Linked DNA regions of Homo sapiens. The protein of the gene in region 2 purifies or fractionates together with the protein of the main gene of each other region. This does not show direct contact. Each region holds a gene or a part of one and is shown on either strand. Other genes may lie near its edges.

The links. Proteins that work in one complex are often made in the same cells at the same time.
Region 1: the proteins of TUBA3E (region 2) and TCP11L2 purify together in Homo sapiens (affinity purification with mass spectrometry; 3 studies listed by BioGRID and IntAct, with this or other methods). This does not show direct contact.

What each region holds. Positions count from the first base shown.
Region 1 is NC_000012.12:106,305,714-106,312,748, reverse strand, and holds part of TCP11L2 (T-complex protein 11-like protein 2), read right to left. Parts: intron 5,468-7,035; exon of another isoform or gene 5,379-5,467; intron 3,819-5,378; exon of another isoform or gene 3,672-3,818; intron 1,709-3,671; 5' UTR 1,674-1,708; coding exon 1,517-1,673; intron 457-1,516; exon of another isoform or gene 315-456; intron 1-314. UniProt on the Homo sapiens protein: Promotes the migration of muscle-derived satellite cells (MDSCs) during differentiation throught interaction with FMNL2 and therefore may participate in microfilament assembly.
Region 2 is NC_000002.12:130,191,244-130,195,473, reverse strand, and holds the end of TUBA3E (tubulin alpha-3E chain), read left to right. Parts: intron 1-246; coding exon 247-395; intron 396-1,007; coding exon 1,008-1,688; intron 1,689-3,346; coding exon 3,347-3,643; 3' UTR 3,644-3,729; downstream 3,730-4,230. UniProt on the Homo sapiens protein: Tubulin is the major constituent of microtubules, a cylinder consisting of laterally associated linear protofilaments composed of alpha- and beta-tubulin heterodimers.

The DNA of each region.
Region 1 (7,035 bases), on a different chromosome or scaffold from region 2:
CACCATGCTCAGCTAATTTTTGTATTTTTAGTAGAGATGGGGTTTCACCATGTTGGCCAGGTGGTCTTGAACTCCTGACCTCAGGTGATTTGCCTGCCTCAGCCTCTCAAAGTGCTGGGATTACAGGTGTGAGCCACTGCGCCTGGCTACCTAATTTTTAGGAGAAGATGAGGAGGAGGATCAGGGAAAGAGGAGGAAGAAGAGAAAGGTGATACACAGAATTGGTAAAACCCTTCTTCAGGATGCCTAGGTACCCTGGTGTCAGATGCAACAACACCACATACAGTATAAAGAGTGAGAAAAGGCACAGAAACCTGGGGTGGCTGCTGTTAATTTCTTTTGCCAGGTCTGACTCAAGATTCTCCTTAAAAATGTCTATATACTTTGGTCCAATAATCCAGTGATATCCAAAAGTCTTTCCAGAAAGGCTTCATGCAGTAAGATGTTCATAAAGCACTATTTATAACAGCAAAAAAAAAAAAAAAAAAAAATGGAAACTAAATGTCCAGTGATTAATCAATGGTTAATTTTACCGTACATTCACTTGGTAAAGTAATAAGTATTCATAAAACCAATGTTTCAAAAACATGTAATCATGAGTAAATGTTTTAGTTATAATACTAAGCAAGAAGAGTCCACACACATATACACACATATGTCTATGTGAAGGATAAAGATACGGCAAAGCACTGCCAGCTGTCGTCTTTGAGTGATATCATAGGCAATGTTTTCTTTTCTCTATTCTTATGTATCTTCTAAGTTTTAAAAAATGAGAATGTAAAAATTTAAAATACAAATGAAGCAATTTGTAAGAAGTGGACAGTTCAGCATATTAAACATTAGTTGCTTTTTCCTGCATTTGCTTTGCCAGTTAAAGCTGTTATATTTACTAAATAAAGTGCCAATTAAAAAAAAAAAGGCAAACACATCTGCTTTACCCATCTCTAGTTTCTACATGCAAAAACGGGAAAAAGATATCTCCTTTTGCTGTGGCCTCTCTTTTAACTCTTTCTCACACCCCTAATGTAGTAATTCTCCTTGTGGGTACCTTCCTGGGGTGATTTGCACAATATTTTTTTGAAATCAACATGAAACCCTTTAGATTATTTCACTTCCTTCCTGACCTTTCAATGAAGGCCAGTTTCCTTCAATGTAAATCAGGAATAATCAGAAAAGACCAATTTGAATTTATCCTTCAGTGGAGATCTAAGAAGTAATCTCAAGGAATGGCTTTCTGCTGTTTGGGAGAAAAGACAGATGGGGTTGAAGTCCTGACTTATCATCAGACCGAAACAGATCGGAAGCAGTGATCAAAATAAAAATCAGCAGGTTGTAAACTTTAGTGGCTATTTCTGAGAATGTGTCCCGGAAAGCTGCAGTGCCTCTGCAGTGCTATTCTGGTGCATCTAGAAAGGAGGGGAAGTCTGTTGCTCTCAGGCGTTTCTGAGTTTTCAAATCCAACACATATCTAGAAGTACCCCTGCCACCCACAACCCCTGCTCCCCCATCGGCTCACAAGCAGGAGAGCTGGATTTGCTGGAGGAGTCACTTGCAAAGCTCTGCCTGGAGCATTCATAGTCACTGAGCGAAGCCATGCTTTCGGAAAACCGGGAAGAATCAGAATCGCTTGGCTGGTCCTCTCCCACACACTGCTTCTCGCCATTGAAGGGCATTTTGCGTCACTTAAGTGTGGGTAAAAAGGTAGCACCTGCACAGACAAACAGACCCTGCGTCAATGTTCTGTGGTACTTCCACAGGCACCACCAATGCTTCTTCCAGTGTAGACAACTGTCCCCACAAGTGTCACTGTGTTGGAAAGGCCCCCAGATGACCTCATCCTTCCCCCAGCACCTTGGCCGGACTAGGCCAGATCACTAGGTCATCGAGATTGCCTTTCTGAAAAGGGATTCCACAGCCATAGGTGTGAGCTTACTCAGGACACACCCACTATAAATGTGAAGCTCTAAGTAATGGCAGGTCCTTTTTAAAAAGATGCAGGACACATGCTCTCTCCTCCTGGGTTGCTGAAACATGAGAAGGCGGGAGTGTGGGACTTGGGTCAGATCTCTCGTTCTGTTCTGCCTTTTGCCATGAGACCTTGGGAAGGTCACTTAACTACCTACCTCATAGTGAAACTGGACTGAAAGACTAACCTCTCATTGGGTTGCCAGAAGATTGAATAGAATTCATCTTAAAGAGCTTGGCACAGTACTCAAATGTTAGCTGCTATTATTGCTCCTATTGCTTTGTTTCAGATAAAATAGCTGTGAAATCAGCCTCTTTACGCTTTCTGTGAACCTCCTGGGGAAAGGGGAAGACCGCATGAAACCTCTGGCTGGCAAGTCTTTAGCTTCTTCCCCCTCCATTTCCACATGAACTGCTGTGATATGAAGATTAAGACCTGATATATGGTTAGGATTTGACAATTTACAAAGTACCCATCACAACCCTATGAGTGCACAAGCATGTAGGATCCTGACTCACAAGTGGGGGAACAGACTCAGAGGGATAAGGGGATTTACTACATGATAAAACCAGTCCCTTGGTGTCTATGTCCAGTGTTTCTGGGACATGAGAATCCTTCCAGGGAAGGGCCGTCAGGTTTGGACACTACCCAGAAAGCAGATCACAGGCACACAGGATGACCAGGCCTTGGTCCCAGGAGCACCAGCCAGGCCCGTGAGGGAGCTGACCTTGATGTGAATATGGTATCACCTGACACTGAAGGGGAAACCCGGGCTCAAGGAGAAAGGCACCTCAAATCCTGGATGGACAATAATGAGAGGAAGAGTTCACTGAATCCTTTTAAACCTAAACCAGCCCATGCAATGAGGGATGCAGTGCTTTTAAAGCGGCCAGAATGGGAAACCACAACTATGTATAGTATGTCTGAAAATGCCTGCAGTTTCTTCAATGATTCCATTAATATTCAACAAGTGCCTACTTGAGCACTGAGCACCGGGGAAAGTAACCAAACAAAGACAATGCCCTATTCTTGTGGTTCTCAAGTCCAGCTACCTAAAACTGTGTACTGAATGCTACTAGATGGGAAAAGGGGGAATAAGGCATTGTTGAGAAAACACAAGAAAGGAGAGGCAGGCTCAGGATTAGCAGAGCGGGAGAAGGGGCACTAGCCTTTGTTGAGAGAAAAAGAGTAATTTTTTTAATTCCTTGGATGGTGATGGGGACAAGGATGAGTCTGAGAGGGATCTAATAAGGGTGAAAGGTCTAAGGTCATTTGCGCCTTGCCTCACCTAAACAACCGTCTTCAATCCTGCCACAGAAATGTATCCTTGCTGAGCCCACCACTTTTGCAAGCAGAAAACCACTAGAGTCCACTTGTGCAGGCTGAAGGGCAAGGAGTGGAGTGGAGACACTCACCTTATCCCAGAATCCCAAAGCCATGAACACTGGCTATAAGATTCTTGAGCCCTTGCATCCTCAGTGGTGAAACAGCCTCCTCTAACTCATGAAGACTAAATTCTACCTGAGCTTAAACTCCAATCTGCTCAGGGGAAGGCGAGAGAAGACAGAAGAAAAGGGGCTACTTCAAACCTTTCACTGCCACCAAACCCCAAATCCTAAATGGAATGTTCACCCTCCCCTCTAGTTTGCTTCCTCTCTTTGCCAACATTTGATGTCCCACTGATGGCATTTCTTGCAAATGCTACCTTCTCCAGGAAGCCTTGCTTCTAGCCAAAGTGAATAGCACTCCTCTTGGTATGTCTGCAGCGCGTCTCCTGTATCTCCATGACAGCGCTTAGTTCCTTGTACATTAGTTCCTTGTTCCTTTCTTCCCATGGCTACTTCTGAATCTCCTTAATAAAGCAGAGTTTGTGTCTTGTCCATGACCAGCGCCAAGTATATGACAAGTATTCATTCAGTGTCAGCTAAATCAGAATCCCTGAATCTCATTTGGTACAGCTTCAACCAGAACATTTGCAACCTGATATCATGACACGTTAACCAGGCTGGTACTGCCAAAGCCCAAGCCTTAGAGCAGAGAATCTACTGCTTAAGCCTATCTTATTAGATTTAAACCTCAAGATTCTCAGGTCCTTGTCATGCTCTTATTTGAATATCTTAAAGTTTGTTTCCACTTTAAGTCATTTTTCCCCCAGTTATTCCCCTGTAATGTAACCGCTGTGCTATGCATGCTCTGCTCTTAATTTTTCTCTACTTCGGTTGCCCTCAAATGAGCTCTGGCTGTTTTTCCAAGTGAAATTGAATAAGAGCTTCCAGCCATGAGAATTTATGAACTAGCTTAATAGTTTTAACTGTCCATTTCATTTTTCTACTTTAGCTGGATAGCACACTTGGTAGGTTTCTTAACTGTGTTTAACAAGGCAGAAAAGTGCAAAGATTAAAATAATTGGGAGTCAGGAGTCCAGGGTTTGTGGCCTGGGTTCATCATTAATGTGCCGTGTGACTTTATGCACATTTTTCTGAGAGGTTGGGCCAGTCATAAGGTTTCTCTCAGCAAGGAATATATGATGCTCCAAACCCAGAGTTCCATGAGGCATCACTAGAAGTTCTGAGAAATTAAATGTGCTTATGGCAGTCATGCTTAACAATGTGAAACTACACTTTCTTCCAGCAATTCACTGGAGGTAGAGTTCCTGGCACAGGGGCTGCAATGGAAAATTTAAAAGCTTCAAAATGTTTAGAAACTCTTGTTTAGTGGGTAGAAGCCTCCACATTACAACTGGGCCTTAGTGTATCCAAACAGAAACCTGTATTTGAAGCCAAAATGCCCATTATTACTCTATTAAAAATTTGTCTGTTTCCTCATATAGGCTTACTAAGAATACCTAATTCATAGGGTTGGTGTGAGATTTCAGGTACCCAATACATGCAGCGTGTTTGGAACAGTCATTGACACAGTAAACAGTATACAAATGTTTTCTATTATTTGCTTTTTTTTGTTAATATCATTGCCTCAGGAATTAAACACTCTGGAGGGAAGAACAGTTTTATGTCAGGATAACACCATATTCTTCAACAGACAAACAAGGCTGGTAGTTAACATAGAACAGAACTCTTGGCACTTGTTTGACAGACAAAAACCAAAAGCGAATGGCCCATCACTGTGTGAATGGTCTTCCGCAAGTTCCTTCATACCTGCTCTTACCTTTCTCGGTCTTGAGTTTCCAAGTAAGTCACCTGGGGACAAACCTACTTGATTCAAAAGGCACTGAGGATATTTAGATTGCTTTAAAAACTATTTTGGATTATCCTTTAGACTGATGATAATGAAACCAGGCTGTATCTTTAAGAAAGGTAATACTCCTTATGCAAACTTAGATCTACCTAACCTTTGCCACTGCAACTCACAAGTAAATCAAACAACTTTTCAGAAACATCACATCTCATCATACCTGGAGGATTTAATCACTGGTCAAAGGTAAAGTCAACAGAAAAGACTGAAGATGACTCCAAGCAAAGCCTCCAACACGATAGCAGGTCACTATTCAAAGAAAAGTACTGTCATATTCACATTTTTGATTGTATTATTCCATCACTTTGTGATAATAAATATAATGTCATTTCTTCTGAGACCATCACTGGAATGCAGCAAGCATTCAAATATTTATTCAAATATTTATTGTTGAATAAATGAATGGTAGTAAGACTACTGACATTTAAGAGGTGTGAATGGGTACAAGGACTTGAAGGGGCTAGTGCTGTATTTCACTACAGATAGAGAGGAGATTGGTTTTTAATTTGCTTGTGATTCCTCAGCTCGTGTGCAGCTTTACTTCCTGATTTCCTTTCTGCAGCAACTCTATCTGCAAATAGTTCTGCACTGGTTCAGAATTGCAAAGATACACTGATGATAATACATGTCACTGAAGCCATAAGAACATTGCCTCTGGAGCTAGGTGGACTGGGTTCTTGATCCCGGCTCCTCTTGATTATTTACTGACTAGAAACAGAGAACTCGCCATTTGTAAAATGGGACAATAATAGTATCCACCTTGTAGAAGTGTTGTGAAGATTAACTGAAATAGTATCTGTCAAGTACTTAAGCTCCTAGTAAGTGCCTGACGGATGTCAACTATTATTTTATTCTTATTAAAAGAAGTTACAAGTTCCGAAAATGTAATGTCATAAAAAACAAAGAAAGGTTGAGAATATGTTCCAAATGAAAAAAAAACACTTGATAACTGAGTGCAATAGGTGATCCTAGAGTGGATCCTATACTGAAGCAAAAATGCTGTAAAGGACAGTATCAGTCAATCAATAGCACTGTTAACAATATTTGAATCTACTGTCTGTTATCCAATGTTAAATATACTGAAGTTGAAATGTACTGTGGTTTTGTATTTAGGAATAAAGGGCCATGACATATACAACTTTTTCTCAAATGATTCAAATGCAAGAGAGAAAAAATAATAAAGCACATAGAGCAAAATGTTAATAGGTGAATCTGAGAAAAAGGTAGACAACATGGTATTCCTTATACTATTCTCACGACTTTATCTGTAAGTTTGAAAGTATTTCCAAATAGAAGGTTAAAAGAGAAGATGACAGGCTGAACTGAAACTTCAAGATTCAAATTCAGAACAGTCCAACCTCTTGCAGTTTTGAAATTCTGATTGTGCCCACTGCTGTGATAGCTTAAATACCACTCTATTACAAGAACTCTTCTAGACAGTCAAACTTGTCCTGATGTCCTTCTTGAACAGTGCCTAAAGAATAAAACAGGAAATAGGCCAGAGCCCTCCAGAAAAGGCAAAATAGATAATCCTTTTTAAGAGTTCATCCCTAGGTGGGTTCCCTTTTCCTAAGTCACTGGGCCATGGTTTACAACCCTCTGTGATCTTAACTCTGCCCACCTTATTCTGCAGTGTTCTCCCACTAACCCTTCATGATCTTCTTTGCGTTCCTCAGACATGCCAAACTTCCTATTTCGGGGCACTCATACCTGCTGTTCTCTGCCCCTGAAATGTTCCTCTCCCTGATCTCCTTGTGGTTGGCTCCCTATTGTCATTCAGATTTGAAATTTAATGTCACCAACTACGAGGTAACCTT
Region 2 (4,230 bases):
TGGGAACTGGTCGTGCTGACATTTATACCACAAGCTGAGTTTAACGTCGTAGAGTCATAAATTGCATATGCAGTTTGGTTATCACACAGAGACATTTTCTACCAGACACTGCCACTGTTGACCTATGACATGTAGGTCATGTACTTTGAACAGCATGTGCTCTGTAGAAGTGAACACTCCTGGAATGTGTCCATCTTGGTGAGTACAGGCCTTAAAAATTCACAGTACACACTGTCTCTTTTGCAGATGAAGTGCGCACAGGGACCTACAGGCAGCTCTTCCACCCAGAGCAGCTGATCACCGGGAAGGAAGATGCAGCCAGTAATTACGCCAGGGGCCATTACACCATCGGCAAGGAGATTGTTGACCTAGTCCTGGACCGGATCCGCAAACTGGTAAGAAGAGAAGGTTTCATGTGGCCATTGTCTTGCATGGGAGGGGTAGTTCTTGGAATGTGAAAGGGAAGTCATTTTATCAACACTTAGACCAGCATCTTGGCCGGGCGCGGTGGCTCACACGTGTAATCCCAGCACTTTGAGAGGCTAAAGCAGGTGGATTACCTGAGGTCAGGAGTTTGAGACCAGCCTGGCCTACATGGTGAAACTCTATGTCTACTAAAAATACGAAAATTAGCTGGGTGTGGTGGCACACACCTGTACTGCCAGCTACTTGAGAGGCTGAGGCAGAAGAATTGCTTGAACTCGGAAGGTGGAGGTTGCAGTGAGCTGAGATTGCACCACTGCACTCTAACCTGGGCAACAGAGCAAGATTCCGTCTCAAACAAACAAGCAAAAACTTAGACCAGCATCTTGAGTCCTACTGAGTCTGCAATGGTGATTTGTCCGTAGATCTTTGCTTTTCTTTGCTTCAAAGTGTATTGCATGTTTATTATGGATGATTTGAATCCATATCAACTCTTTAGAGGCAAAGAGAAGCGGCCCTGGCTTGTTGGAGGTTGGTGGTGTGGCTTCCACGGGCATTGGCTCACGTTGTCTGGTTTCTCTCAGGCGGATCTGTGCACAGGACTGCAGGGCTTCCTCATCTTCCACAGCTTTGGGGGCGGCACTGGCTCTGGGTTCGCATCTCTGCTCATGGAGCGGCTCTCAGTGGATTACAGCAAGAAGTCCAAGCTAGAGTTTGCCATTTACCCAGCCCCCCAGGTCTCCACAGCCGTGGTGGAGCCCTACAACTCCATCCTAACCACCCACACGACCCTGGAACATTCTGACTGTGCCTTCATGGTCGACAATGAAGCCATCTATGACATATGTCGGCGCAACCTGGACATTGAACGTCCCACGTACACCAACCTCAATCGCCTGATTGGGCAGATCGTGTCCTCCATCACGGCCTCCCTGCGATTTGATGGGGCCCTGAATGTGGACTTGACGGAATTCCAGACCAACCTCGTGCCGTACCCCCGCATCCACTTCCCCCTGGCCACCTACGCCCCAGTCATCTCAGCTGAGAAGGCCTACCACGAGCAGCTGTCTGTGGCCGAGATCACCAATGCCTGCTTCGAGCCAGCCAATCAGATGGTCAAGTGTGACCCTCGCCATGGCAAGTACATGGCCTGCTGCATGTTGTACAGGGGGGACGTGGTCCCCAAAGACGTCAATGCGGCCATCGCCACCATCAAGACCAAGCGCACTATCCAGTTTGTGGATTGGTGCCCGACTGGATTTAAGGTATGACTGGGTGACATGGAGGCCTTTCAGCAAGCAGCAGATGCACAAAATAACACTGGCCTTGAAGGCCCACATCCTTTGGGGAGACTATCCCTGTTCCATGGGCTAGGCATGTGGGCATAAGTTAGTGAACCAGAGTTGATAATTGATTCAGTGATTTTTTTTTTTTTTTTTTTTTTGAGACAGTCTTGCTCTGTCGACCAGGCTGGAGTGCAGTGGTGCGATCTCAGCTAACTGCAACCTCTGCCTCCCGGGTTCAAGCAATTCTCTGGCCTCACCCTCCCAAGTAGCTGGGATTACAGGTACCTGCCACCATGCCCGGCTAATTTTTGTATTTTTAGTAGAGACGGGGTTTCGCCATGTTGGACAGGTTGGTCTTGAACTCCTGACCTCAGGTGATCTGCCTGCCTCAGCCTCCCAAAGTGCTGGGATTACAGTCGTGAGCCACTGCGCCCAGGTCAGTGATGTCTTTTGAACTCTTTCTGAGTCATCACACTATATATCTGTGGTGAGCTTTATTTATTTATTTATTTTTTGAGACAGGGTCTCGCTTTGTCTCTCAGGCTGTAGTAGTGTGATCCTGGCTCACTGCAACCTCTGCCTCCCAGACTCTAGCGATTCTCTCACCTCAGCCTCCCAAGTAGCTGGGAACACAGACATGTACCACCATGCCCGGGTAATTTTTTTTTTTTTTTGAGACAATCTTGCTCTGTCGTCCAGGTTGGAATGCAGTGGCACGATCTTGACTCACTGCAACCTCCACCTCCCGGGTTCAAGCACTTCTCTGCCTCAGCCTCCCAAGTAGCTGGGATTACAGGCACCTGCCACCACGCCTGGCTAATTTTTGTATTTTTAGTAGAGATGGGATTTTGCCATGTTGGCCAGGCTGGTCTCAAACCCCTGGCCTCACGTGATCTGCCCGCCTGTCTCCCAAAGTGCTGGGGTCACAGGCTTGAGCCACCACACCTGGCCTGATGTTGTCATTTATAGAACGAGTTTGCTGATCCCTGCTCTAGTTGACCCTGTGCACTGCTGCCAGGACCTCAGGTCATGTTATTACCGAGTTCTGAAACTTGGAATGCTTCCCCTTTGGTTACCACCTTGGAATGTCACCCCCTACTTAGGCAGGCACATGGACCACTTCGACCACTTCCTGCTGCTGTGGTAGCAGCATTCATATGACTCTTGACCCATGATCTGCTACCTTTGCATATCCACAGTGGCTTGTTTTGTGGGTCAGAAGTGGGTATGATGTTCCTTGTGATAGCATGGGCAAGAGTTGTGTACTCTGAATCTATCTGGGTGGAAGAAGTTTAGCTACAGAATTTAATTGTAATCTACAAAGAAGACAAGCAGCATACATTTTCAGAGGGAAGACTGTCTTCACCTGGGCACCTATCACATGTCACAGGTACTAGGACACAGCCCTTTAGGTAGCTTGGGATCCCACCAGGGTGGCTACCTCCAAGGTTCCTTTCTCTATTCCTCGTCTGGAACTATCACCCTGCCTGGTGCAGAGAAGGGCTTAGTGACGTTTGTGAGGTGAACTGAGCATTCTCCGTGTCACCTACAGGGTGTCTTCTGTTTGAGGAGAAGTAGCTACCATTTCTAGGTTTGATATAAGCTTCACGGACTGCTTTCTTTCCCTTCTCTGGCAGGTGGGCATTAACTACCAGCCCCCCACAGTGGTCCCCGGGGGAGACCTGGCCAAGGTGCAGCGGGCCGTGTGCATGCTGAGCAACACCACGGCCATTGCGGAGGCCTGGGCCCGCCTGGTCCATAAGTTCGATCTCATGTATGCCAAGTGGGCCTTTGTGCACTGGTACGTGGGCGAAGGCATGGAAGAGGGAGAGTTCTCTGAGGCCCGCGAGGACCTGGCAGCTCTAGAGAAGGATTGTGAAGAGGTGGGCGTGGATTCCGTGGAAGCTGAGGCTGAAGAAGGCGAAGCATACTGAGGGGAGGGTGTGGTGGGTTCTCCCCTGCCACCCCTAGGATGGCTGCTTTCAAGTTGTTTGCAATTAAAGATTCTGTATAAAACCAAGACCTCTGAGTGTCATGCAGCTTAGCTCTGCCTACAGGAGCTGGTGGGACCCCAGAGCCTGCATGGACAGCGGTGGGGTGCCAGCCTGCCCTGCTGGCGTGGGGTTGGGTGCAGCAGGACTGTACATAAGCAGCTGCCACAGAAGTAACCTGACCAGGGGAAAATAGTGTTTCTTCAAAGCCAGGCGTTCAATGTATAGATTTCCTAAATTCTAGGAAAGCTGAGTCAGGGTTTTCAACTGAATTTGTGATTTTTCGGGCTTCTTTATTGATGGGTCATGCTGGCTAAAAGGGAGCATGAAGTGTTGGAGGTCTGTGGATGGGGCTTGTCCATGAAGTCTCTAAAGCTGTGGGTCAAATATGTAAGGTCAGGACATTTTAGAGGGGGAAAGAATATTAACCGAGTTCCACACAGCATTCGTGACCCACAGAAGGTCACAACACACCCATGCTGACCCCAGTGCTCCACGGTAACCTGGAAGGCAGCGTTCGCCCTCTGTGC